Linked DNA regions of Homo sapiens: regions 1, 3 and 4 are each reported to be linked to region 2. The links are microRNA targets in miRTarBase. Many come from high-throughput screens and were not tested one by one. Region 2 holds a microRNA gene; each other region holds the end of a gene's coding sequence. Distances are between the middles of the regions.
The links. The annotated mature microRNA hsa-miR-652-3p reads AAUGGCGCCACUAGGGUUGUG and lies in region 2 at 4,201-4,221, shown strand. An mRNA with a match to its seed (bases 2 to 7 or 8) in the 3' UTR can be bound and repressed. Matches are read on the target gene's strand: a 7mer-m8 pairs with bases 2 to 8, a 7mer-A1 pairs with bases 2 to 7 and ends in A, and an 8mer does both.

Region 1: miRTarBase lists SLC12A6 as a target of hsa-miR-652-3p. The part of its 3' UTR that is shown has no 7-base or 8-base seed match.
Region 3: miRTarBase lists RPS19 as a target of hsa-miR-652-3p. Seed matches in the 3' UTR shown: 7mer-m8 at 5,979-5,985.
Region 4: the mRNA of DOCK11 is a reported target of hsa-miR-652-3p. The part of its 3' UTR that is shown has no 7-base or 8-base seed match.

The regions. Positions count from the first base shown.
Region 1 is chr15:34,227,695-34,234,694 of GRCh38, forward strand. It overlaps SLC12A6 (solute carrier family 12 member 6), which reads right to left. Exons shown (of 26, transcript NM_001365088.1): 26 at 2,090-6,278. The coding sequence ends at 6,187. EMC4 (ER membrane protein complex subunit 4) reads left to right here. Exons shown (of 5, transcript NM_016454.4): 3 at 1-152; 4 at 735-895; 5 at 2,059-2,462. The coding sequence ends at 2,094. Among named protein-coding and RNA genes, the nearest start is that of EMC4, 6.2 kb to the left of the region's middle.
Region 2 is chrX:110,051,189-110,058,351 of GRCh38, forward strand. It overlaps MIR652 (microRNA 652), which reads left to right and starts at 4,141; the gene lies at 4,141-4,238. The region is part of intron 2 of TMEM164 (transmembrane protein 164); the gene reads left to right.
Region 3 is chr19:41,870,298-41,877,460 of GRCh38, reverse strand. RPS19 (ribosomal protein S19) reads right to left here. Exons shown (of 6, transcript NM_001022.4): 6 at 4,536-6,110. The coding sequence ends at 6,084. CD79A (CD79a molecule) reads right to left here and starts at 182. Exons shown (of 5, transcript NM_001783.4): 1 at 78-182. The coding sequence starts at 156. RefSeq lists a silencer at 1-40 and enhancers at 1,448-1,517, 3,853-4,102, 5,416-5,675, 5,916-5,985.
Region 4 is chrX:118,684,818-118,691,959 of GRCh38, forward strand. It overlaps DOCK11 (dedicator of cytokinesis 11), which reads left to right. Exons shown (of 53, transcript NM_144658.4): 53 at 871-1,330. The coding sequence ends at 990. Among named protein-coding and RNA genes, the nearest start is that of IL13RA1, 39 kb to the right of the region's middle.

The DNA of each region.
Region 1 (7,000 bases), not on the chromosome of region 2:
CTGCTGGGACATCGCCTTGGGTCCCCTCAAACAGATTCCCATGAATCTCTTCATCATGTACATGGCAGGCAATACTATCTCCATCTTCCCTACTATGATGGTGTGTATGATGGCCTGGCGACCCATTCAGGCACTTATGGCCATTTCAGCCAGTAAGTATTCTTGAAACAATAACCCTTCCATAAGTTTGAAGAATTAAAGGCAGGCCGGGCATGGTGGCTCACGCCTGTAATCCCAGCACTTTGGGAGGCGCCAAGCTGGGTGGATCATCTGAGGGCAGGAGTTCGAGACCAGCCTGGCCAACATGGTGAAACCTTGTCTCTACTAAAAATGCAAAAATTAGCTGGGCGTGGTGGCACACGCCTGTAATCCCAGCTGCTTGGGAGGCTGAGACAGGAGAATCACTTGAACCTGGGAGGCAGAGGTTGCAGTGAGCCGAGATCGTGCCACTGCACTCCAGCCTGGGTGACAGAACGAGACTCCATCTCAAAAAAAAGGAAGAATTAAAGGTAAATTCTTAGGGACAGTTTTTGGCTAACAGGTATATAGGGGAGTGGGGTAATGGTGGTGGCATGGAGGGGAGTGTAGTGCTTACCATGGTTTTCTGTTTGCCTTTAATGGTCCTATTTGCTGTCTTACTATGGGTCTGTCTATATGAATTTAATATACAGTTGGCTTGATTCGTATTGGGGGAAAGAGTTCTTTTGGTTTGACAACTTCTGTTACCGCAACAGCTTTCAAGATGTTAGAAAGTTCAAGCCAGAAGTTTCTTCAGGGTTTGGTCTATCTCATTGGGAACCTGATGGGTTTGGCATTGGCTGTTTACAAGTGCCAGTCCATGGGACTGTTACCTACACATGCATCGGATTGGTTAGCCTTCATTGAGCCCCCTGAGGTAAGGCAAAAGAAAAGCTGAATTTTGGGTAGTTGTAGTATACAGTGAATAGCTGACCTACTTGATGGTAGGAAATTGGAGTTGGTATTTGAGTTTCTTTTTTTTTTTTTTTTTTTTTTTGAGACGGAGTATTGCTCTGTCGCCCAGGCTGGAGTGCAGTGGCATGATCTCGGCAACCTCCGCCTCCTGGGTTCAAGCAATTATTCTGCCTCAGCCTTCCAAGTAGCTGGGATTACAGGCACCTGCCACCATGCCCAGCTAATTTTTTTGTATCTTTTAGTAGAGATGGGGTTTCACCATGTTGGCCAGGCTGGTTTTGAACTCCTGACCTCAAGTGACCTGCCCACCTCTGCCTCCCAAAGTGCTAGGATTACAGGCGTGAGCCACTGCGCCTGGCCTAGGGTTTCTTAAAAAATAAGAGCCATTAGGAGTTTTTAAGTTATTATTTTTAATTAATTAATTAATTTATTTATTTTGAGACAGAGTCTCACTCTGTCGCCCAGGCTGGAGTACAGTGGTGTGATCTTGGCTCACTGCAACCTCCGCCCCCCAGGTTCAAGCGATTCTTGTGCCTGAGCCTCCCTAGTAGCTGGAATTACAGGCAACTGCCACTGCACCTGGCTAATTTTTGTATTTTTAGTAGAGACAGGGTTTCACCATGTTGGCCAGGCTGGTCTTCAGCTCCTGACCTCAGGTGATCCACCCACCTCGGCCTCCCAAAGTGCTGGGATTACAGGTGTGAGCCACCATGCCTGGCCAAGTTATTATTTTTGAAACAGGGTCTTGCTCTGTCACCCAGGCTGGAGTGCAGTCATGTGATCATGGCTCACTGCAGCCTCAACCTCCGGGCTCAGGCACTCAGCCTCTCAAGTAGCTGGGACTACAGGTGTGCACCCCAATGGCTCGCTAATTTTTGTATTTCTTGTAGAGACAGGGTTTTGCCATGTTGCCCAGGCTGGTCTTGAACTCCTGGGCTCAAGCGATCTGCCTGCCTTGGCCTCCCAAAGTGTTTAGCTAAGATTAGCTACTGCGCCTGGCCTGGAAGTTCTTTTTTAAGGATAGGCAAAATAGAGCTTGTGGTTAAAGTATTAAGTAATTGATTCAGGAAGTTATTTTAACACTCATTTGCCACTCACCTATTTATTCTTTCTTTCTTCTTTCAGAGAATGGAGTTCAGTGGTGGAGGACTGCTTTTGTGAACATGAGAAAGCAGCGCCTGGTCCCTATGTATTTGGGTCTTATTTACATCCTTCTTTAAGCCCAGTGGCTCCTCAGCATACTCTTAAACTAATCACTTATGTTAAAAAGAACCAAAAGACTCTTTTCTCCATGGTGGGGTGACAGGTCCTAGAAGGACAATGTGCATATTACGACAAACACAAAGAAACTATACCATAACCCAAGGCTGAAAATAATGTAGAAAACTTTATTTTTGTTTCCAGTACAGAGCAAAACAACAACAAAAAAACATAACTATGTAAACAAGAGAATAACTGCTGCTAAATCAAGAACTGTTGCAGCATCTCCTTTCAATAAATTAAATGGTTGAGAACAATGCATAAAAAAAGTTGCACAAGTTCCTTATTTTCCTTAATATTTCACTTCTATTTAATACAAGCTGGGACATAAAAATTCTGTTGGGGATACCTGGGGGAAGATGTGAGAAACTAATGCTGAATTCAGCTTATACATGATGAAAAGAAAAACCAGACAAAAGGAGCACATAAATATGCATACAGTGTAACTGTTATTATTTTAATACCCACGATAAGGGATTTTTGTTAGCATGTTTAGGGGGAACGAGGATTGGTGGGATCCTTGGGCCACAGGAATCTGAGGCAACGGAAGATATATAGAGTGATCGTCCCCCTGCCGAAGGAACCTGGCACCTGTCAAGCAGATGCTGCAGTTCAAACTTCAGCTTTTAAGATAGATAGCTATTGAAGGCAGAGGGTCAGCAGGAGGATGTGTATTTCTAATCTACCCTGGTAAAGTCATAGGTAAGACTCAAAAGCGGGATCTTATTCAAAAGGCAGGTATTTCCTTTGTTTTCTGTCTTGAAATAGCCCCTTCCCCTAAGGTGCATTCTCTCAAGTTTTCAGTATTGCTTTATTTGCAGTGATTAAAAGAGATGAGAGACTTTGGAGACAGACAACGTAAGCAACACATACACACATGAAATACTCTAGACAGACATGAATATAAATCTGGCCTAATAACCAGTTTTCCATGTAACAGTGATTTTGTGTTTCGGGCTGAAGCAGTGGTTATATTAAAAGCCACTAATTCCCTTATCCCTTTAAAAGATTTTTACAATTCTCCAACCACAAACAGCACTTCTAAAACTAACTTTACTTTCTGCCCATAATTTGTTCTACATGGAAAAAAAAAATATTACTTTGGCCAGGGGTGTGTGTAAATGTGGCAGAATTCCTAGGCAGGCTGACCTTTACAGTATGGGCCTTTAAGATACTGGATCCTGGTTGGGCACAGTGGCTCACGCCTGTAATCCCAGCACTTTGGGAGGCCAAGGCGGGCGGATCACCTGAGGTTGGGAGTTCGAGACCAGCCTGACCAACATCAGTTTCAGTAGAGAAACCCCGTCTCTACTGAAAATACAAAATTAGCTGGGTGTGGTGGCACATGCTTGTAATTCCAGCTACTCGGGAGGCTGAGGCAGGAGAATCGCTTGAACCCAGGAGGCAGAGGTTGCGGTGAGCCAAGATTGTGCCATTTCACTCCAGCCTGGGCAACAAGAGCGAAACTACGTCTCGGAAAAAAAAAAAAAAGATACTGGATCCTGCAGGACATGACTCACTACTGTTAAACTCAACTAAGCAATGGAGTGTTGCAGTGGGAGTTGTAAATAATGCTTCTACCATCTGTAGGAAGTAACAGAAAAAAAGACTTAAGATCCTATCCGCTTTGCCATCCTCAGTGGGCCTGGAGGTTGAAGCAAGCAAAGGGAACAAATCAAAATTACTCAATTTCTTTCTTTCTTTCTTTTTTTTTTTTTTTGAGATGGAGTCTCCCTCTGTCGCCCAGGCTGGAGTGCAGTGGTGCAATCTCGGTTCACTGCAAGTTCCACCTCCCGGGTTCACGCCATTCTCCCGCCTCAGCCTCCCAAGTAGCTGGGACTACAGGCGCCCGCCACCATGCCCGACTAATTTTTTTGTATTTTTGTAGAGACAGGGTTTCACCGTGTTAGCCAGGATGGTCTCAAATCTCCTGACCTCGTGATCCGCCTGCCTCGGCCTCCCAAAGTGCTGGGATTACAGGCGTGAGTCACTGCACCCGGCCCAAAATTACTCAATTTCTTAAGCTATATTGAAGGGTTTTCTCTGTCCTTACAGGTCAAATGAATAATTTGTGACACCTAGGTCAGCTTGCTCCATGTCCTATTTAGTAATCAAAGAAGAGTGGCACTATTTATGACTAATAAATTGAAATTCAAAAACAGCCATGAATACAGGCAAGAAAAGTTTCTCTAAATAACTATTCTGTAAAAGAAATGAAGATTTCACATACTTGAAATTACTGCTCAGCCAGCCACATAAGTAGTTTCCCTATGCTTGTAAGCCAGATGTTTGATCAGTATATTAGTAAATAAAAAGCTGAGCTTACACAAGTATTTCCTTGGCACACTGAACTTTCTTTTTGAAACATATCACTCTGTTACCCAGGCTGGAGTGCAGAGGTGCAATCCTGGCTCACTGCAACCTCCGCCTCCTGGGTTCAAATGATCCTCCTGCCTTAGCCTTCCGTGTTGCTGGGATCACAGGCATGCACCACCATGCCCAGCTAATTTTTGTATTTTTAGTATAGACAGGTTTTCACCATGTTGGCCAGGATGGTCTCGAACTCCTGACCTCAAGTGATTCACCTGCCTTGGCCTCCCAAAGTGCTGGGATTACAGGTGTGAGCCACGGCACCCGGCCTGAAGTTTCTGAAAACAAATTAGAAGACTGTTGGCTTGGCTAATCTCGTAGTTCAGGGCCAAGTTTCTGTAGTCAGAATGAAGAATAAAATTGAAAGAAAAAGGGGGAAATGCTTATACTTGGCATTAAGTTGAATGCCTCAAGTCTTAACTATGGCTTTGTAGATGAGGCAAAAGATTTCTTAGTGGTAAAATTTCTTCAACAGGTCAATGCCAATCTGTATGCCATTTTAGTAAAGTAGGTAAGGAGAGTAGCCGCTCAGTAACGTTGGCACTAAAGAAAGAGTGTGGCTCTAGAACTTCCAATTCCATTGCTAGATGTGCCCTTTAAAAGATGGTCCAGTGCTTTCAGGGAAGGATGTTTAGCCAGTTTTCCTAGTATTTGTTCCTTAAGATTTTTTGACCTGTGCTTAATAAGAGGGCATAAAAAAAGGCGCGGGGGTGGGGGCGGGGGGAGAAGAACCTGTTGATTAATGTGCACCATGACCTGCATTTCTTAGACAACAGCTTGTATGTTTTGTCCATGTTGTATAGAGAACCACAGACTATTTCAGTAAATGTTAATAGCTTCCTTTTGGAGTTCTCTTAGTTCGGCCATTTGAAAGGAACCTGAAAGAAATAATTTTTACCTTACCAAAAACAATTTCCATGGTAACACTGCCTGTGTTACAATGACAGAATGGGTTTTGAGTTAAGAGAAACAAAACAGTTGAAGTATACACTGACACAGTATTTGGATATTTAAATCTGGTATTTTGGGGGGATGTTTTTGAAGAAGTAGAGGCTGCAGCCATGTTTCAAGTTAGTATCCTAATATAAAATTACAGCAGTGGGTATACTAAAGAAATATAGCTAAAAAATGTTTGCATCTTGGCTTGCCGAGGATAATAGGTCCAAATATACTTGACCATAAATTCTTTAGTAAGATGAAGCTGTCTCTAGTTGTTATCCTCACAGTGTCAACATTGAACCATGACTTCTGAGATTCATCTTTAATGCTGAATACGTACTTGACTTGCTTTTTTTCTTCAGTTGAATTTCTAGCATCCCTTTTACCAATTCATTTATTGGCTCAGCTTGTTAATTCTAATTTGCCTTTGACTGCTCAGACGTGGCTTGAAAGACTTGAGCATTGTTCTGATGTTGAGGGAATATTTGCTTTTTCTGTAATGACTGCAGATCAGATGGGAGCTCTTTTACACAGGTACTTGAGGCTCAGCTCATCAAGAGTTCAGTATGATGTGTACAGAACACAGGCTTCTAGTTGAGTGGGAGTGGTAGTAATGAGCTGGCACTTCCATGGAGGACGTAGGCCTTTTAAGAAAACAGGTCAAGCACGGTCATTCAGAGTAGGTTATGAATAAATGGTGATCACTTCACTGCCACCACCCCGGACAAGTAGGACTCGCTCTAGTCCCTCGGTAAGCACCTCTAGGAACTCCATGTCTTCAAAACTTGTCAAGGAGACAGGCAAAAGAAGAGCACAAACTTAAAACCTGGCATCATCATAATCTGAGGTTATCTGATCATAGAGCTACAAAATTAGCTGCTTAATTATTATATATTCAGAAAAGTCTGAACTTTGGATTGAATTTAACCCTGTGAAGTAACCAGAGATCCAGTCCTTTTGCATACATAATACCAGACTCCCATTTGTGTATTTAAAAAATGGGAAAACCTAGAAGTGTTACTCTAAATAAGATAAAAATGATGAAAGAAGAAGAAAAGCCACAATAGGGCAGCTAACAAGATTCCTAGAGAGAACCCAAGTAATTTCTAAGTGAAGCTGCTCAAGTCAGATTTTTCTGCCAGTTCGGTTTGTCTTTTTCTTTTTAAACCTTTTTCTTTTCTTTCTTTTTTTTTTGAGACAGAATTTCCTCTTGTTGCCCAGGCTGGAGTGCAATGGTGCGATCTTGGCTCACTGCAACCTCCACCTCCTGGTTCAAGTGATTCTCCTGCCTCAGCCTCCCGAGTAGCTGGGATTACAGGCACCTGCTACCACACCCAGCTAACTTTTCTATTTTTAGTGGAGACGGGGTTTCACCATGTTGGCCAGGCTGGTCTCGAACTCCTGACCTCAGGTGATCCACCTGCCTTAGCCTCCCAAAGTGCTGGGATTACAGGCATGAGCCACCACACCTGGCCTAAACCTCTTCTTTCTTAATGGT
Region 2 (7,163 bases):
TATTAAGCAGTGGGTAGAACAGTGACTTGTAAACCCGGCTGTACATTGAAATCAGCTGGAGCACTTTAAAATACTGATGCCCAGGCCCCAGGCCCAACCAGTTGAGTAGGCATCTTGAGGAGTAGGCCCCAGGAATTTTTTTTTCTTTTATGAAACAATAAACTGCCTACGTGAGTCTAATGTGCATTCAGTATTTAGAACTGCTGGGTTTTACAGCAAAGCCAAACAACTTGGTTCTGGCTGTTTGAGCCAGGTGAAGGAAATAGAATCAACTTTTCTGTACCTTAGTTTTACCTGCCTAGAACAGAGAAGCACTAAAGCTTAAGAATTTAAAGAGGCTTACTGTGACCCCCCTGTCATTATTGTTGCATACAAAAGAGAGGTAACTTTCTTTCAAAAAAAAAAAAAGAAAGAAAGAAAGAAAGAAAGAAAGAAAATCCAGTTATTCAGCTGGCTTGGCTTCTGGGCTGTAACAGTGGCTTGAGGATTAAAAGAAATCTTTCCAGTTGCTTGAAGAAGGGTTATCTGTATGGAGGAACAGCAGCTTCATTCCCAGTGTGGTTTGGACAGCGCATTCCAGGTTTTCAAACCTGCCTCAGCTTCCAGCTGACTCCCTTCTCATGCCCCAGGTGGTTAGCAGAGTTAGGCACCATACTTATATTTTTAGTGAAATTGCCTTTTAATAGTATTTTCCTAACATAAAAGCAACAGATGTTCATGATTCAAGCCCGGAACATTATAGGAATATGACACATAGCAAACAAAAGTCCCCTAGAAGTCGGTCTCCCAGACATATCCATTGTAAGCATGTTTTTCCTTCTGATTTTTATCTCTGCATATGCTAAACATTTTATATTTTTATTCTAAAAATGGGATCATTCAACAATGTTTGTATTTTTTTTTCCTTAATATCTTAGCCATCAGTCCATGTTAGTACATATAAATCAACCTCATTCTTAAGGACCCCTGATTCTTAGGATTTTAGTCACACAAGGGCACAATCTCCTTCCGCTTCCCTCCAAGATTTTGCTTTCCTATGGAAAGGCTTGGGTTTTGTTTGTTTCTTTGGGCTTCAAATAGAGCAAATCCATTATATCTGGTATATTTATGTTTGGTTGTTATTTAAAAATTCATACAATTTTAAAGGAATAGAATAGCATATATGATTCCCTCCAACCTCTGACCCCTGATCCACTAGTTCTTCTCCCCAGAAACAAACTGCCATTACCAGATTCTTGGAAATCCTGAGAATTACTGCATGCATAAACAAGGCTTGAATATTCTAAAATGGCTTTTGCTTAGGTAACCAAGTCTATCCATATTGTATGGAGACATCTTGTTTCATTTATTCATTCAGCAAGTACCTGATGAGCATCTCATATGTTCCAGGCACTGTGTTAAGTTCTGGACCTACAGTGAGGACCATCACACAGCTCCTGCTCTCCAGAAGCTTATGGTCAGCAGGGAAGATCAACATTTAATGAAAACATAGCTAAATATAAATGAGAAATGGTGATATGTGTTGTGAAGGAAAAGAACAGCATTTACATGCATCTGTTTTTTTTTTTTTTTTTTTTTTTGAGACGGAGTCTTGCTCTGTCGCATAGGCTGGAGTGCAGTGGCGCCATCTTGGCTGACTGCACCTTCCGCCTTCCAGGTTCAAGCGATTCTCCTGCCTCAGCCTCCCGAGTAGGTGGGGCTACAGGCATGCACCACCATGCCCAGCTAATTTTTTTGTATTTTTAGTAGAGACGGGGTTTCACCATGTTGGCCAGGATGGTCTTGATCTTTTCACCTCATGATCTGCCCACCTTGGCCTCCCAAAGTGCTGGGATTACAGGCGTGAGCCACCATGCCTGGCCTACATGCATCATTTTTTAAAACAGTGATTAATGGAGTCCCCTTTCCCAATTTTTTAATACAAAGGTGTGGATGGGAGATTTGCAGCAAAGATAGGAAAGCAAAGATATAACCCACAATCTTTACTCTTGCCAACAGCTCTTACCTTCTTTCCCACCAAAATTTTCCTTTGATAAAATGTCTTGCTGAGAGTTAGGCTAACTCACCAACCAGCTTTAATTTTGGTTGACAGGGTGCCGTAGAAGACCTTTGCTAGCCAGACTGTGAGCTTCTTGCAGACAGGAATTATGTCCTGCATCACTGTGTGCTCAGAACCTCAGGAAGAACAAACTGATGTAGGCACCAGGAAATAGGTGCTTTTATTACATTCTCATTTTATGCCTTAGAAGCACTGCAAATGGTAGGTATTCTTATTTCTGTTTTAAACAATGAGAAAACTGAGGCTTAAGGAGGTGTAAAAAATACTTTCTTTTAAAAAAAATACACCTCTCCCCCACCATCATAAAAACCCCAACTTTGGCCATAGAGTTCATTGGTGGTGGAGCACTGCAAACATTAGCTGTCCCATGTGGCTTTGACTCTGACACAATTGGTCCTCTTGCTTCAGGGAACTGGATACCATCCATCCCTCCCATGGGTTGGCCTAGGCTCTGTTACTTCAGAGTTTTCTTGACGAGTTTCAAGGTAACCAGGTCATCCTGTTCTACATATTTTTCTGGGATTGAGGTCAAGGAGCAGCATGATCCTCTCTTAAATGGGTCAGAGGAGGAGGACTCCTGTGGCTCCCTGAAAGGTCAAGCCCCTTCATGCTAACTACACCGTCTTCCCTTCTCTTCCAGCTTATGTCCTGGGCTGGGCTCTGGACAGGGAGCAGAGGCAGATGTGCGCATGTGTTCTGGAGGACTTTTATATGTCCGATGGTGTGTTAGGCACTATGTGGAGTGGAGGCAGAGGGAACTCCAGAAAAGATAAATTATCTTATGGTGGAGACAAAAGGTAGTATTGGCAACAAACATGACCTCTGGAATCAGATAGTTTTGGGTTCCAGGCCTGACTCTTTGACTCACTTATTAGTTGTGCGACCTTAGGCAATTTATTTAACCTTTCTGTAGCTCAGTTTCCTTGTATGCAAACAGGAGGAAAATAATAATCTCTTACATAATAGGATTGCTATGAAGAATATATGAACTAATATGTGTAAGACATTGACTGTAGTGCCAGGCACCTAGTAAGCACTCAGTAAGGAATAACTACTGCCATTATTGTTGTTACTAACAACAGTATGAGACTAATAAGTGATTAGTGTATAAGTACCAACAAATACCAATGGAGTTCAGAAAAAGAATGCTTAATTTTTGTGACTTATCCAGGAAATCTCTAGAGGAGACAGAAGAAGTGGAATGAAATATTCCAGGTGGAGCAAATATGAAAGTGGGAGGCTGAACTGAACTGGAGTGGGGAACAAAAAGAAGAAACAAACGCAACATCTGGCACCCTTGAGCTCTACCACCAGCTCACCTGTTGTCACTACCAATATGTCCAGTCCTTTATGGCTCTCCATTTTGGAGTGCCCTGAATTACTGGCTGCAGTTTTGACTTGGCCAGCTAGTTGGCCAGCTGCTCTGACTGAGCTTGAGGGTGTCTGTGCCTTGGTGGAGTTGACACGGGTCCTAACTCTGCAACTTGGTTTGTAGGTTCAAAGCCTAATTTTTATCAGCTTACCCAGGGCTGTTGGTTTCTAGTGGATTGGGTCACACTCCCCAACATTACAAAACACTTCTTAATAAATCACCAGGCTGATAAGTCGATTGATGATGAGAGAGAGACCTTTATAGAGATGAGAACACTTGTGTGTATCAGCCCTTTCTGATATCAAGGTACCTGAAGCCAAATTAAACAGGGACTGTTTTATAACCTAAAATCAGAACCTAATGGAGTTGAAAAGTCTCATGAGCGAGACCATATAGGCTTTGGTAGTCCATGGAAAACTGTACCTTTTTGCATGTCTGTCATAGCTTTGTAGTGTGACCAGAATGTGTGTCCTGTTCTCTCTCCACTGCTGGAGAAACATCAGTAACAATTTTTCTCTTGGATGTTCCTGTTTTCAATTCCATGCAAATGCTGTTTGTGTGCTATGGCCATGCTATTCTCTTGAATTTCTTTTTTCTTGACAAGATTTTTGAGTTGCCTACTTCTCAGCGACAACATAGTGATTCTCTCATTGAGTGTTCTTTTTGGCTTTGTTCTCAAACACTAGGAATGTTTCCAAGCAGGGCCGCCACGAATGGCTATGCACTGCACAACCCTAGGAGAGGGTGCCATTCACATAGACTATAATTGAATGGCGCCACTAGGGTTGTGCAGTGCACAACCTACACAACTGTACTCGGCGGCCCTGGCATAATGTAATGTCAGTACTTTCTTCATCAAGGTACCAGTTTGGGATTGTCCTCAGGGTAAGGGGGCTGAAGCAGTGAGCTGCTGCTGTGACCAGGAAAGGAAGAAAGAAGTAAAGTTGTGGCTTTGGGAGAATTATCTTCTCTGTAAATGAGAGCCATCATATAGGAGAACTACGTACCTTCGTTCTTTCAGTAAATAGTTTTTTAAGTGCCTACTATGTGAGGGTTGAAGAACAGGGAGGGGTTTGCATAGGAGGGAGCATTTGAACTGGGCTTTGTGAAAGAAGTAGAATATTAACATGTGAAGATGAGTCAGGAGGAGAGAATCTCAGGGGGAAGGAATAGCGAGAAGAAAGACAGATGGGAGACCACAAGGGATATATGGGTAATGGTGCATAATTCATCTTGGTTGGATAGAAAAGCATGTAAAAGGGAGTAGTGAGCAATGATGCTGGTCGGGGGTCAAATGATGATGCAGGAGGGGAGGGAGTTGAATGCCCAATTAAGGAATTTGGACTTTTATTTATCAAGCAATAAGGAGCTATCCAAAGTTTGTTTTTTAAACAGCTTTATTGGGTTATAATCATATACCATATAATTCATTCATTTAAAGTGTACAATTGAATGTTTTTAGTATATTCACATATATGTGCAACCACCACCACAGTCAAATTTAGAACATTTTCATCATCCAAAAAATAACTCCATACGATTTAGCTCACCCCCCTCCCTACCTTTCCCCCACTCACCAGCCCTAAGCAATTGTTAATCTACTTTCTGTTTCTATAGATTTTATCTATTCTGGACATTTCATAGAAATTGAGTAATTATAATATGTGACCTTTTTCCACTGGCTTCTTTCACTTAGTATGTTTTCGAGATTCATCTGTGTTTAGCATGTATCAGTACTTCACTTATTTTTATGGCCAATTAATATTCCATTTTAAGGATATGCCACATTTTATGTATCCATTTGTCTGTTGGTGAGCATTTGGGTTGTTTCTGCCTTTTGGCTATTACAGATAATACTTCTGTGAACATCTGTAAGTTTTCAGGTGCACATAGGTTTTTATTTCCCTTGGACATAGGTTTTCATTTCCCCCAGGTATAGGAGTGGAATTGCTGAGTCATATGATAACTCTATGTTTAACCTCTCAAGGAGCTGCCAGACTGTTTCTCTAAAATGGCAGCATCATTTTACATCCCTACCGACAGTATAAAAGGGTTCCAATTTCTCCACATCCTCATGCACACTTGTGTTTGCCTTTTATATTTTGGCCATGCTAGTGGGTATGAAGTGTCATCTCATTGTGGATTTGATTTGCATTTCCCTGATGACTAATGATGTTGAACATCTTTTCATGTGCATGTTGAGTACCCGTGTGTTTTCTTTGGAGAGATGTCTGTTCAAGGTTATTTATCTTTTTATTGTTGAGTTTTTTTAATACTTTAGCTATTTTTAATGTATATATTTAAGGTTTTCAACTTAATGATTATATATATATATGGAAATCACCACAATCAAGATAACACATGCATTACATCATAGAGTTATCATTTATGTGTGTATGCGTGTGTGTGTGTGTTGGAAATACTTAGGATCTATTCTTATAGCAAATTTTAAGTATACAGTACAGTATTTTCACCTATAGTCGCCATGCTGTACATTAGATATCCAGGACTTACTTGTCCTGGAAAACTAAAACTTTGTACTTTTTGACTAACATCTTACTTTCCCAGCACCAGCCCCAGCTAACCATCATTTTATACTCAGCTTCTATGAGTTAGACTAATTTACATTTCATATTTATGTGACATCATAAGATATTTTTCTTTCTGGCTCATTTCACTTAACATAATGTCCTTTGGGTCCTTCTGTGTTACTGCAAATGATAGGATATCCTTCTTTTTAAAGGCTGGATAATATACCACATTTTCTTTATTCATGCATCCATCGATGAACATTTATCTTGTTTCTATATCTTTGCTATTGTGAATAACGGTGCAAGGAATATAGGAGTGCAGATATCCCTTTGAGATCTTGATTTCAACTGTTGGATAAGTATTCCAGAAGTGGGATTGCTGTGTCATAGAATAGGTCTTTTTTTTTTTTTTTTTTTGAAACTATACTATTTTTGATAATGGCTCTATTGATCTCCATCAGCAGTTTTCCAGGGTTCTGTTTTCTCCACACCCTTCCCAATATTGCCATCTTTTGCATTTTTTATAATAGCCATTCTGACAAGGGTGACATGAGATCTCACTGTGGTTTTCATTTGCATATCCCCAATGATTAGTGATGTTGAGCACCTTTTCATATACCTGTTGTCCATTTGTATGCCTTCTTTGGAAAAATGTCTATTCAGATCCTTTGCCCATTTTAAAATTGGGTTATTTGTATTTCTGCTATTGAGTTTATGAGTTCTTTACATATTTTAAATATTGACATCAAATTTGTGGTTTGCAAATATTTGCTATATAGCTTTTTAGGTTGATGTAGTCCTAATTGTTTTTGTTTGTTTGTTTTTTACTTTTCTTGCACGTGCTTTTGATGTCATATTCAAAAAATCATTGCCAAGACCAATTTCAAGAAGTTTTTCCTATGTTTTCTTCTAGGAGTTTTATGGTTTCAGATGTTACATTTAAGTCTTAAGCCCATTTTGAGTTGGTTTTTGTGTGTGGTGTAAGATAAGAGTCTGATTTCATTACTTTGCGTGTGGATATCCAGTTACCCCAACATCATTTGTTCAAGCAAGCATCTTTTCCCCCATTGTGTATTTTTGACCCTCTAAGGTTCTTTATTCCTTTTCATCCTTTTTTTTCTTTTTCTCTTCTGATGAGGTAATTTTAAATAACTGTTCTTCAAATTTGCTGGTTCTTTCTTCTGCTTGATAAATCTCCTGT
Region 3 (7,163 bases), not on the chromosome of region 2:
TCCCTCTGCCTGTGCCCTCTCTGCAGCCTCCACAGCTTCCCCCACCTCCCGCCAGTTCCTGCCCTTTGGCCACATACCCAGGTAGACAGCAGACAGCAGGAAGAGGAGGAAGATGGTGGCAGGCAGAGCTTGGAGGACTCCTGGACCCCCAGGCATCTTCTCCCAGTGGGTTGGTTAGTTTGAGTTGCAGCAGTCCCAGGGTACCAGATCCCTACCCCAAACCCCACCCTACTTCCTGCCCAGCCCCCCGGAGATGGGCTCCAGTGGCCCTCGCTACTGGGCCCTTTGCTTGTTGGGCCTGGGGACAGCCCCTGCCGGGTATGCTTCAGGCTGTGAGTGGAGAGAAACTGCTCCCTGCACCTGTGGTGGCCACAATTCCCCTGAGAGGTGGCTGCTTGGGTGGGGGAAGAGGCTGGTTCAAGGGCTGGCTCGTCACTGCTGAGCCTTTGGAAGGAAGCCTAGGGAACCTGAGTCCTGGGCATGTGTCATGGGCAGGTGATGGTTCTGAGCTTGACCTCTCCCCCTGCCTGGACTTGGGCAAACCTTGTCCCTTCCCTGACCCCATTTCCTTGCTTCTTGGGATTAGAAACAAGGACTTAAAGGGGTTGTCACATGCACAGAAATGGCCCACAGTAGGCGCCCAGTAAATGTTAGTCACTATAAATACTCATGAAGAATAAATAAGGCAGGCTGACCTGTGGCTGACTACCCGTGTGACTAGGTGGGCACTTTGATCCTTCGAAGCTTGACATTTTTCATCTGTGAGATGAGGACCAGAATGTCTCCCTGTCTCATTATGTGATACGAGATGGTGTTCCTGGTATTCAAGGAGTGAGAACCATGATCAGCTCTTTACTGGAATTCTTTTTTTAAAAAAACAGGCCAGCTATGGTGGCTTATGCCTGTAATCCCAGCCCTTTGGGAGGCTGAGACAGGAGAATCACCTGAGGTCGAGTTTGAGACCAGCCTGGCCAACATGGCGAAACCCCATCTCTACTAAAAATACAAAATTAGCCAGATGTTGTGGCACATGCCTATTATTCCAGCTACTCAGGAGGCTGAGGCAGGAGAATCAGTTGAACCCAGGAGGTGGAGGTTGCAGTGAGCTGAGATCACACCATTGCACTCCAGCCTGGGTGACAAAAGCGAAACTCTGTCTCTAATAATAACAATAATAACAACAACAACATATATTTTTCTTCTTTTTTTTTTTTAAGAGGGATGGGATCTTGCTATATTGCCCAGGCTGGTCTTGAACTCCTGGCCTCAAGCAATCCTCCTGCCTCAGCTTCCCAAAGTGCTGGGATTACAGGCATGTGCCACTGTGCACAGCCAGAAGTTGTTTTATATTGACCTGCCATGACTGGCAAGGTAGGCCATCCCCCATTTTACAGAGGGGGAAACCGAGGCCAGAGAGGGGAGGTTGTCACTTGCGGGTGTCATACAGTCTAGGGGTGGTGGACAGAGATTCAAAGTCATCTTTGTGTTGCTCCCAGTTTCCTTTGAGCATGTCTGGTAGGAGGGAAATGAGGTCTGAGTGGGGAGGGCGGAGTTGCTGAGATATTTGTGAGCAGTTAGGGGACCCTCACACACATACAAGGGGATATATAAAATAAATTTATTGCAGGGAGATTTTTGGTAGCAAACATTGAGAAGCAAATGAAAAGTCCATTTGTGGGAGAATGGGTGCATACACTGTGGCAAAGTGAGCCAACAGAATGCTACAGAATAGGGGAAGGTGTCATAAGGCTGTCTCAGAAACAGCACAAACATCAGAAAAAATATCGTAGCATGATACAGTTGACTTGTTTTCAAAAGGCGTCCGCTGCTTAGGGACACACGTTTGTAGCAGAGGTGTAGACCCGTGCAGGGGAGTGGCAAACGCCCAGTTCCTGGGAGGGGTTACCTCTGGGGGACGCCAGGGTTGGGTCTGGGGAGGGACACACAGAGACACAGAGAGCTCATCTTGTCTTGGTTTTATTTCCTGTGTTACTTTTTTTTTTTTTTTTTTTGAGACGGAGTCTCGCTTTGTCACCCAGGCTGAAGTGCAGTGGCGTGATCTTGGCTCACTGCAACCTCTGCCTCCCAGGTTCAAGTGATTCTCCTGCCTCAGCCTCCTCAGTAGCTGGGATTACAGGCGGCCACCACCATGCCTGGCTATATTTTTGTATTTTTAGTAGAGACCAGGTTTCACCATGTTGGGCAGGCTGGTCTCACACTCCTGACCTCAGGTAATCCACCCACCTCAGCCTCCCAAAGTGCTGGGATTACAGGCGGGAGCCACCGTGGCTGGCCACTTTTTTTTTTTTCTTTTTTAGAGATAGGGCCTCTCTCTGTCACCAAGGCTGGTGTCCAGTGGCATAATCATAACGTCAAACTCCTGGGCTCAAGTGATTCTCTTGCCTCAGCTTCCCAAGTAGCTGGGATTACAGGTGCACACACCATGCCTGGCTATTTTTAATTTTTTTTTTCTTTTGAGACAGAGTCTCGCTGTGTAGCCCAGGCTGGAGTGCGATGGTGTGATCTTGGCTCACTGCAACCTCCGCCTCCCGGGTTCAAGTGATTCTCCTGCCTCAGCCTCCTGAGTAGCTGGGACTACAAGCAGATGCCACCATGACCGGCTAATTTTTTGTATTTTTTTAGTAGAGATGGGGTTTCACCGTGTTAGCCAGGATGGTCTCAATCTCCTGACCTGATGATCCACTCGCCTCGGCCTCCCAAAGTGCTGGGATTACAGGCATGATCCACCGCACTGGGCCTATTTTTTAAATTTTTTGTAAAGACAGGGTCTCACTGTGTTGCCCAGGCTGGCCTGGAAGTCCTGACCTCAAGTGATTCTCCCAGCTTGGCCTCCCGAAGTGCTGGGATTATAGGCACTGCACCCTGCCCTGCCTGTGTTACTTAAACTGGGTTGTGCTTCATAGGTTTTTCTTACATTATGAATACTGAATGCTAAATACTTGCATGCCTGAAGTATTTCAGATTTTTTTTTTTGAGATGGAGTCTTGCTCTGTTGCCCAGGCTGAAGTGCAGTGGCGGCACAATCTTGGCTCACTGCAGCCTCCGCCTCCTGGGTTCAAGCTGTTCTCCTGTCTCAGCCTCCCAAGTAGCTGGAATTACAGGTGTGCACCACCATGCCCAGCCAATTTTTTTTTTCATAGACACAGGGTTTCACCATGTTGGCCAGGCTGGTCTCAAACTCTTTTTTTTTTTTTTTTTTGAGACGGTGTTTCACTCTTGTCGCCCAGACTGGAGTACAATGGTGCAATCTTGGCTCACTGTGACCTCCACTTCCTGCATTCAAGCGATTCTCCTGCCTCCACGTCCAGCTAATTTTTGTATTTTTTAGTAGAGACAGGGTTCCATCATGTTGGCCAGGCTGGTCTCGAACTTCTGACCTCAGGTGATCCACCTGCCTCGGCCTCTCCAAGTGTTGGGATTACAGGTGTGAGCCACCACTCCAGGCCAAGGTCTCAAACTCTTGACCTCAAGTGATCTGCCCACCTCTGCCTCCTAGAGTGCAGAATTTTAAAAAAGTGCAATTGCCAGCTGGGCGCGGTGGCTCACGCCTGTAATCCCAACACTTTGGGAGGCTGAGGCGGGCGGATCAGAAGGTCAGGAGATCAAAACCATCCTGGCTAACACAGTGAAACCCCGTCTCTACTAAAAATACAAAAATTAGCCGGGCATGGCGGCGTGTGCCTGTAGTCCCAGCTGCTGGGGAGGCTGAGGCAGAATGGCGTGAACCCAGGAGATGGGAAAAGGGCAATTCCCATCCACGCAGAAGAGCCTGGGCCTCAAGAGTCCAGGATTCTTTTACAACTCAGCTCTGCCAACTGACTGGTCATCTGAAACTCAGTTTTTTCTCCTATAACATGGGTACAAACCCCCCACTTGATAAGACTGCAAGAATATTCTGCAGTGCATTTGGCACAGTATCTAGGACAGTTCTGTAGCCCTGGGAACCAGGACCCCAGGTGTTCTGCTGGGGTCACTAGCCCCTCTGCACTTCAATTCCCCGTTACAACCCCCTCCCAGGAATAAGCCTGGCTCCAGACCTGGAAGCCCTAGGAATTCACCTTCAAGAGCCTTCGGTGGCTGAGCTTCTTTCTAGGCCCTCTACTGCTCCCCAGTGGCTGGAGCGGCGCGGCTGCGGGATTGCAGGCCTGCTCGGGACACCTAGACCTTGCTTCCTACCTGGGAAGCGCAATGCCTGCTGCTGTGCAAACCGGACGCTTGGCATTGAGTTCTCATGTCAGCTCTGGGAAATGTTTTCATTAATGGCCAAAAGAGGAAACTAGAGCCCAGAATGGGGAGTGACTGGCCTGCAGCTAGAGTGCAACCCTTTGGGCCTCTTTTCTGAGGCACAGAGCCCTTGGAGTGGCTAGGTCCAGGCTGCAGCTGGGTTGCTTGGGTTCATATGATGGCTCCAGCTGTGGGATATCTGGCAAGTTACCCAGCCTATGGCTTACTTTACCTACCTCCAAAGCACTTTTCGGCACTTACTTCACAGAGTTGCTGAGTGTAAACAACGGTGCTTTTAACATTTTTATTGATTCTTTTTTTGAAATGGAGTCTCGCTCTGTTGCCCAGGCTGGATTGCAATTGCTCGATCTCAACCCACTGCAACCTCCGCCTCCGGGGTTCGAGCGATTCTTCTGCCTCAGCCTCCTGAGTAGCTGGGATTACAGGTGCGCGCCACCATGCCCAACTAATTTTGGTATTTTTAGAGACAGGGTTTCTCCATGTTGGTCAGGCTGTTCTCAAGCTCCCAACCTCAGGTGATCAGCCCGTCTCGGCCTCCCAAAGTGTTGAGATTACAGGTGTGAGCCACTGTGCCTGGCCGATACTTCTTAAACTCTTACGCCTTACGTTTGGGGACTGCCAACTGAACTGTCCAGCAGCAGAGCTACTCAGAGCCAAGGCTCTCCACGGCATCTTGTCCAGTCTCTCAGGAGTTAGCAGGCTTACACACGAGGAGACGAAGGCTCAGAGGATAAGGTGCACAGGGTTACGTGGGATTAGGGGCAGAGTTGTGATTTAAACTCTAGTTTGAACTTCAAAACCCAGGCTCGCCCCTTTCCAGGAAATGGGTCAGATCCCAGGAATAATTTGGACAGGGGAATCCTGGGAGATATTGGCCAAACCAGTTTAGTCTTCCCAACTGGGAGGGACATCTGGTCACAGCGGGCCCTAAGTTTCTTTCCTGGCTTGCCCCTCCAGGGGTCGGACAGCTGCCCACTGGGTGCTATTTGGATCTCCCAGCCTGACCAGGTGCCCAATCATGGGCGGAGGCCACATCCCACTTGCCGTGCACGACTGCAAAGGTTGTGCAGCCCGTGTGTGGCCGCCCTGGTAATTCAACTTCTGCACAGGGATCTGCTTCCACCGACTTCCTGCCACTGCCACTCAGCGGGCCCAAGACCGCTCAGATGCAGAGTGAAGGCTCAAGGACCATTCAGCCTGTGCAGGCCCCAGGCCCAGGAAAGTTAGTGTGTAGGCAGCACAGGTCAGTTTGCGGTGGAGGCTCCCTGGTGGTCTGTCCTTTTCTACCTTCCAGGGAAGAGCATGAACCCTGGGCCCTCTTGCTTTACTCCAGCGGAAGCCACCTCTGCAGCCCAGGCCCAGCTGAGGTCACAGCTCACAGCCATCCTTTCGTTTCTCACTTTCTGACAATTGCAAAGACAGGATGTGGGGGAGTGAGCCACAAGGGCCCCTGGGTCCTTCCTCCAAACCCAGATGGGAACTGTTTGACCTGGGAAGGCCCGACTGGCTGCCGGGTAAACAGCCACCCAATCACCCTGGGCCCCCTCACCCAAGGGAAGGGAGGAAGCGCCTCTTCCTCATGCCCCTGAAGAACAATCAAGAGACCCAAACCAGACCAGGCACAGTGGCTCACACTTGTAATCCCAGCACTTTGGGAGGCTGAGGCAGGAGAATCATTTGAACCCAGAAGGCGGAGATTGCAGTGAGCTGAGATGGCGCCACTGCACTCCAGCCTGGGCGACAGAGCAAGAGACTCAAAAAAGAGACCCAGACCAGGATTACGAATGAGGCAATTTATTAACCCAGCATGGTTTGTTCTAATGCTTCTTGTTGGCAGCTGCCACCTGTGGGAAAAGATGGAAGAATAAAAGTTAGTCAAGGGGGTCTCTGCTGGGGCACTTTGTAACAGCTACCTAACTACCCACCACAGGTGGGCACCCCGATTTGTGGTTTCAAATGCATCTATCTCATCTAATTCTCACTGTGGGTATTCCCCCATTTCACAGACGTGGAAACTGAGTCTCAAGGGAGTGGCCAGGCACAGTGGCTCACACCTTTAATCCCAGCACTCTGGAAGGCCGAGGCAGGTGGATCACCTGAGGTCAAGAGTTCGAGACCAGCCTGACCAATATGGTGAAACCCTGTCTCTACTAAAAATATAAAAACTAGCCAGGTGTGGTGGTGTGTGCCTGTAGTCCCAGCTACTCGGGAAGCTGAGATAGGAGAATTGCTTGAACCCAGGTGGCAGAGGTTGCAGTGAGCTGACATTGCACCACTGCACTCCAGCCTGGGCGACAGAGCAAGACTCTGTCTCAAAAAAAAAAAAAAAAAAAAAAAAAAAAAAAGGAAGGGAGTGGCGGAGTGGAGTCCAAATTCCGCCCACTGCCATGTGAGAAGGCCAACATCCAACCACCAGCAATGATGTGTGCGCCAAGCCCCACTCTGCCTGGAAGAGCTTTCTCCTTCCAGACCACCCCCAACTCCTAGAGGGCTGACACTTTCCATTCTTTTGTGACACTTGACTGACTAAATGCTCCAAGGCTCCTAGGAGGCCTGAGTCAGTGATACAGAATTGAGCTCATGCCAGGCCCTGGGTGCTCCTGCTGTACTATAGCTCACTGACTCCTCACTACCATGCTTGAGGTGGCCAAGGGTAGATTTTGGCCACAGGGAGGCCAAGACAGGAGACTGTGGCACCAGGGGTGTGGCCACTCTGCCCCAGGGTGTTGGCCAGCCAGGATCTGAATGGAGACCTGGGTTCTGAACCAGCCCCCCTCCCTTATCTCCACCTCTCCCAAGCAGCCCATGTGATGCTCAGTACGCATGAGGACTAAGGGGAAACATCGCAGGCTGACCTGGGGAGGGGGAGTCATCTACGGGTACAGCTATGTGCTCTG
Region 4 (7,142 bases), 8.6 Mb from region 2:
ATAAATTTTATTTAAGCCTTATGATTTGTAGCAACACAAATGATATGTCTCAATACTGCCACTATAGATCAATCTGTGGGCTTAATACTGAAGTTTCACAACTAACTTGAGAACCAAGTATTGAAAGCTTGGGACCTAAGTTAGGACTTTATGGTAAAGAGAGTGGATATAATGTATATAGCGTTTTTTACCTCAATCTACTTTAAGCACAAGATTTCTGTTGCTTTTTCTTTAGATTACACAAAATGGATCATTTAAAAAATATTTAAACTAATACGAATATCTATGTTTATATACTTACTGGAATACAATCTTTAAATTTTATATTTATGAAGTTCTTCCTTTCCAAGAAAAATCTTCTGTATCAATTAGCTTATACAATTATAATGTGTCTTTAGAAATATGCACTTAAGACTTTTATCTTCATTTACTATTATTTTCAAGTCTCCAGGGAAGGAACATAGGTATCTGCATGTTTCAAAAGTCCCATAGATGATTCTGAGAACCACTGTGTTAGATCATTCATAAACTCATGTCAGAGTCTACCATTTAGAGCTCTTGTTATGACCATCTGTTAAAAAATATTTTAAAGATTGTGTTACCTCTCGCTTTTTATTGAATTTTGCATTTTACAGTCTTTGTTTTTCTTAATGAGTAACTAGATCTTTTCTGCTTTTTTGATATGCTGCCTTTGTAATACAGCTTTGAAGACTTAAGTCGGTAATGTTATTCTTTGCTCTCTCTGCTTTCTGTCTTTTTAAATAACTGTCAGTGATAAATTGAAATATGCCTGCAATTTCATATACACATTCTTTTTTTGGCAGTGGCTATTTTGCTTCATGATAATCATGCTGATTTCTTCTGTTTTAGATATTACAAGAAGACACAATGCATTCTCCCTGGATGAGCAACACATTACATGTATTTTGTGCAATTAGTGGTACATCAAGTGACCGAGGTTATGGTTCCCCAAGATACGCTGAAGTGTGAGGAAATGCAGATGTACGTGACAATGAGACTGACCTTTCTCAGGAATATTTGGAGCTGTGCAAATGTTAAAATTTAAAGATTTGATATACATGGAGTGTTTCTTCTCGACACCAAAATTTTCATGTGTTCCAACAGGGTGCTTACATATTTGTAAATAAGCAACTTGAAAGTGCCTGGAAAATTGCACCACTGTGCTTGGTTTGTACTTTTTTAGGTAAATCTATATGCTGAAAAGTAGAGCTCAAAAACAGTAGTTCAATTTGCTTAATTATTGCTTAAAATAATGGTACTATGTAAAATTGTATAATGGAATACAATAAAAGGTAAAACTTATTTGTAATTAGAAGTGAAAGAAATAATACTTTGAACTTAGCATTTTTCTTGACAAGAAGCTCAATTCATTATCATACTAATCCTTGGTAGGAGGAGAAGAAAATTGATAACATTTCCGTAATACACGGATATTTAAAATTGGGGAGATCATTTGAATCCTTGCCAATTAGTAGTCAAGGCTGGGCTAAAGGAACCAAAAGCATTATTTCACAGAAAATTTCAAAAGGAAAGGATATATTTACAAATATACGAAGCTTAGGCTGGACACGGTGGCTCATGCCTGTAATCCCAACACTTTGGGAGGCTGAGGCAGGCGGATCATGAGGTCAGGAGTTCAAGACCAGCCTGACCAACATGGTGAAACCCCATCTCTACTAAAAATACAAAAATTAGCTGGTCATGGTGGTGCATGCCTGTAATCCCAGCTACTGAGGAGGTTGAGGCAGGAGAATCGCTTGAACCCAGGAGGTGGAGGTTGCAGTGAGCTGAGATCACGCCACTGCACTCCAGTCTGGGCGACAGTGAGACTCTGTATATATAACATATATATAATAGTAAGCTTGAGATACCATATATATATGTTATGATCTGATGACGCTAGGTAATCTAGTAGGTCTCCCTTCTACATACAAGACATCTAAGGGATTTATACAGGGCAAGCAGCATTTGTTGCCAAAGCTTTATCATCTGGGGCCATCTACAAAGATAAAACATTTCTGAGATTGCAGTCAGTACATCCCACAGAACTTCAAAGCTTTTACAGCAATCTGAGGTAGGAGTTTTGTAATGATTATTTTCTTCAGTTACAAGATTAATAAACATTTTGATTAGAACTTAATGGTTGCAGCATGTCTTGGGTCAATGTAGAAAACCACCACAGATTTGGCAAACTAGCTTGGGATTATATTTCTGTCTATGAAGAAATCTCAGATTGCCTAAATAATTCAGGAGAAACCAAGATGTGAATGACATTTTTTAGCTTGAATTATCCAAATCATTTTGGCTGCCTTCTATGGGAACTCGGGTTCTAGACTTCCTTTTTTTTTTTTTTTTGAGATGGAGTCTCGTTCTGTCGCCCAGGCTGGCGTACAATGGCGCGATCTTGGCTCACTGCAACCTCTGCCTCCCTGGTTCACGCCATTCTCCTGCCTCAGCCTCCCGAGTAGTTGAGACTACAGGCGCCTGCCACCACGCCCGGCTAATTTTTTGTATTTTTTTTTTAGTAGAGACGGGGTTTCACTGTGTTAGCCAGGATGGTCTCGATCTCCTGACATCGTGATCTGCCAAAAGTGCTGGGATTACAGGCATGAGCCACTTTGCCCAGCCTACACTTATTTTCCTTATGTGGTTTAGCCTCTTTTACAGATGAAAAAACAGTCACTAAAATATAAATGGATTGCACGGGGCCTTGGCTTTTTGAGCACTTTGTGATCAAGTAAATCCTAGAGATTATGCTCCTGGCCTGACCATTTTTATTTTTATTTTTTGGGGGGTACCATTTTTTCTTTTTTGAGACAAAGTCTTGCTCTGTCACCCAGGCTGGAGTGCAGTGGCGCCATCTTGGCTCACTGCAACCTCCATCTCCCGGGTTCAAATGATTCTCCTGCCTCAACCTCCTGAGTAGCTGGGATTACAGGCAGGTGCCACCACGCCCAGCTAATTTTTGTATTTTTAGTAGAGACGGGGTTTCACCATGCTGCTCAGGCTGGTCTCGAACTCCTGACCTTGTGATCCACCCGCCTCAGCCTCCCAAAGTACTGGGATTACAGGCGTGAGCCACCGCGTCCAGCCCATTTTTTCTTTATATGTCATTTTTAAGCTTTCAGGAGAGCATGAACTTATTTATTAAAAGTTAATTTTGTATTTTAATAGGGGACTTTTACAAGTATTTCCAAGGCAGTTTGTAATTCCTTAATATCTTAGAGTAACCTGTAGAGTTAGTTTCACCTTTAAAGTGATTATATTTGATATGTATGTGTGAGGAATCATCACCTCTAGTAAATGCTGCATTCTGAGAGTTTGGCATCTTGAGGAGACTCCAGCACTCTTCTGTCTGTAACTAGTCCCTGTCAAAGCCCCTAGCACAGCAATATGCACTGTGGGTAGATTTTTTAATGTAATAAATGGCCCCTATTGCCAAGGATCTCGCAGTCTAGTTGAGAAAGCAAGACGCACAAAATTAAATAGTACAAGAATTAACAATGTAAGACAGGAGAAGTCATATGTGAGTATTGCCAAATGAACGACAGCATTCATAACTCAAATCACATTCAAAGAAAGAGATCACTGTGAATTGTAAATGTTCAGGGAGGGTTTAGTGAAGAAAAGTTAAGCTTTGAACAGGCTTCCAAAAATGGAGAGGGGTATTCTAGGCAGGAGGAACACCATAAGCAAAGGTGCAAAAAGAATTTGTGGAGGTTCAGGGGATAGTAAGGAGACCAGTTTTGTCCAAGAGGTGGTAGATGATAAATCTAGAAAATACAGGCTGGGCGTGGTGGCTCATGCCTGTAATCCCAGCACTTTGGGAGGCTGAGACAGGCAGATCACTTGAGCCCAGGAGTTCAAGACCAGCTTGGCCAACATGGTAAAACACTGTCTCTAATAAAAATACAAAAAAAAGTTAGCCAGGCATGGTGGTACACACCTGTAATCCCAGCTACTTGGGAGGCTGAGGCACAAGAATCGCTTGAACCCGGGAGGTGGAGGTTGTAGTGAGCCTAGATCATGCCATTGCACTCCAGCCTGGGTGGCAGAGTGAGATTCTGTCAACAACAACAACAACAACAACAACAAAAAGAAAGAAAAAAGAAATAAAATACATTCGGACTGAGATTTTGGAAGGCGCTGAATACCAGGCTAATGGTATTTGGAGTTTACTCAATAGGCATGAGAGAGCTAGCCAAGGTTTTTAAACAGATTACTTAATTAAATGTTATTTTTAGAAATTTAATCTTTTATATTGCTGCCAGATGTATTTGAGGTAGAGAGACATGGAAATTAGGAAACCAGTTACATAGATATTGCAATAAACTAAATTCAATAAACCTCTAGATGTGAGTGATATGACAAGAATGGAGAAGAAAGGACGAGTCCCAGAGACATATATGGAAGGACTAGGTAAGACTCATTGGATGGCCAAGGGAAAAAAAAAAAGAAATGTGAAAGATAATTTTGTGTCCTGTGGCCAGGGAGTTTGCCATGTCATGGCACAAGCTCACTAGATTTATTTTTCCAACTCTCAGACTAAAGGTAGCAAGCTGTAGAGAACAAGGTGGGCTCGAACAGAGAAAGCTAGGTAAATCTGTTTTTTAAACACTACATGTATTAGGCATTAAAGTGTATATAGTTTAATGATTTCTTGAAGTGATTTGTCCTCTACAAATTAATTAACACCAAAGAATACATTTCTCCTATACTGATTGTTTTGCAGTTAAGCTTGAGTCCAATTTCCCCTAGAAGTTGTTGTTTTGATAGTCTTTGGACATACTGTGAAATGTGATTAAGTCACCCTTGGTAGTGTTAGTTTATCACTACGGTGAAAAACCATAGAGAAAATAAGAAATTCCATGGAAATTTTCCTAGTAACCAGTTGTCACCACTGGCATCATGTATATAGATGGGATTGTTATTGTTACCGTATTTATATGATTTGGCTGCCTATCAAAATATTATATATTTTCAAAAGTGAAACAGAAAGCAGCAGTGGTAGTAATGTCCTTGGAACCTTGACCAACAACACATCATCCTAGAACTAGAGATGACTCTAATTAAGAAACTAGATAAGTCATGATAATAAGAACGCACATTTTTAAAAAACTATTTCGTATCTTTTTTTCTTCTAACTTTTAGGTTCAGGGGGTACATGTGCAGGTTTGTTCCATGAGATATTAGCTTTCTCTGAGATGAAGAACCTGAGTGATATAATGGATTAATAGGAATTTCCAAACTCTTCAAAACATTGATAATTAGACATATGTCTTGGGCTTCTGATCTCCAAAATGTTGGGCTACCTTTAGTCTCAGTCTTGTTCTAACAGTACACTAGTTCAGCTATCAAAAGACAAGGAGAGGAAAGGAGTAAAAGTTGGTTGTGGGTGGGGAGTGGGTTTGTGTAACAAGGCTATACCCCTGTCTTGGGAGTTGGTGAGTAAGAGTGCTTTATTTATCTTTTTTTTTTTTTTCTAAGCACTTAATGGTCACTGTCTAAAAACAGTGTATCTATGTTTGTTCATCTCCTAATGGGAGTCGTGGCTAAGTTCTAAGATTTTGCCTCTGTGCATAGCATTTTAAAACTTTTCCAATGTTCTTTTTTTTTGCTTTGTTTTTCCTTTTTATTGAGATATAATTCACATACCATACAATTTACCCATTTAAAGTACACAATTCAGTGTTTTTTAAAATTACATCCACAGAGTTGTGCAAGTATCACTACAATTTAAAACATGTTTATCACCTGAAAGAGACCCCATACTCATTAGCAGTCACTCCTACCGGTCATCATCCTCCAGCCCCTGGCAACCACTAATCTACTTTTTGTCCCTACAAGGTTTACCTGTTCTGGACATTTCATATAAATGCAGTCATACAATATGTGGCCTTTTGTGTCCAGCTTCTTTGACATAGCATATTTCCAAAGTTCATCGATGTTGTAGAATGTATCAGTACTTCATTCCTTTTTATGGCTAAATAATAATCCATTATATAGATACACCATATTTTATCTTCTCATCAGTTGATGGACATTTGGGTTATTTCCACTTTTTGGCTACTGTGAATAATGTTGCTGTGAACACTCACAAGTTTTTGTGTGGACATGTTTTTAGTTCTCTTGGGCATGTACACAGAAGTGGAATGACTGGTTCATATGGTAACTCCATGTTTAACCTTTTGAAGAATTGCCAGACTGATTTCCACGGCAGCTGCACCACTTTATATTACCACCAGCAATGTATGAGGGTCCCAGTTTCTCAATATTCTTGACAACACTTGTTATTATCTGCCTCTTTGATTATTGCCATCCTAGCAAGTGTGTAGTATCTCTTTGTGGTTTTCATTTGAATTTCCCTGATGTCTAATGATGTTGAGAATTCTTTCATGTGGTTACTGGCCATTTTTGTATCTTCCTCAGAGAAATATCTCTTTTAAGTCCTTAGACCATTTGCTTTTTTGAGACAGGGTCTTGCTGTGTTGCCCAGGCTGGAGTGCAGTGGTGCGATCTCAGCTCACTGCAACCTTCCCATCCCGGGCTCAAGCGATCCTCCCTTTTCAGCTTCCCAAGTAGCTGGGACTACAGATGAACACCACCACACCTGGCTAATTTCTGTAGAATTGGGGTTTCGCCATGTTTCCCAGGCTGGTCCCGAATTCCTGGCCTCAAGCAATCCACCCACCTTGGCCTCCCAAAGTGCTGGGATTACAGGTATAAGTCACCGTTCCCAGCCCCTTAGCCCATTTTTAAATCAGGTTGCTTTACTATTATTACTATTATTGTTGAGTTGCAGGGTTCTTTATTCGAGATGCAAGTATATGATTTAAACATATTTCTCCTGTTCTGTGTGTTGCCTTTTCACTTTCATGATGGTGTTCTTTGAAGCATTCAAGTTTTTAAAAATTTTGATGCAGTCCAATTTATATTTTCTTTTGTTGCCTGTGCTTTGGCATTGTATCTAAGAAGACCTTGCGTAATCCAATTTCACAGAAATTTACACCTATGTTTTCTCTTAAGAGTTTTATAATCTTAACTCTTACTTTTGGTCTTTGGTCCATTTTGAGCTAATTTTGTATATGGTGTGTTGTAGGGATTCAGATTCATTCTTTTGC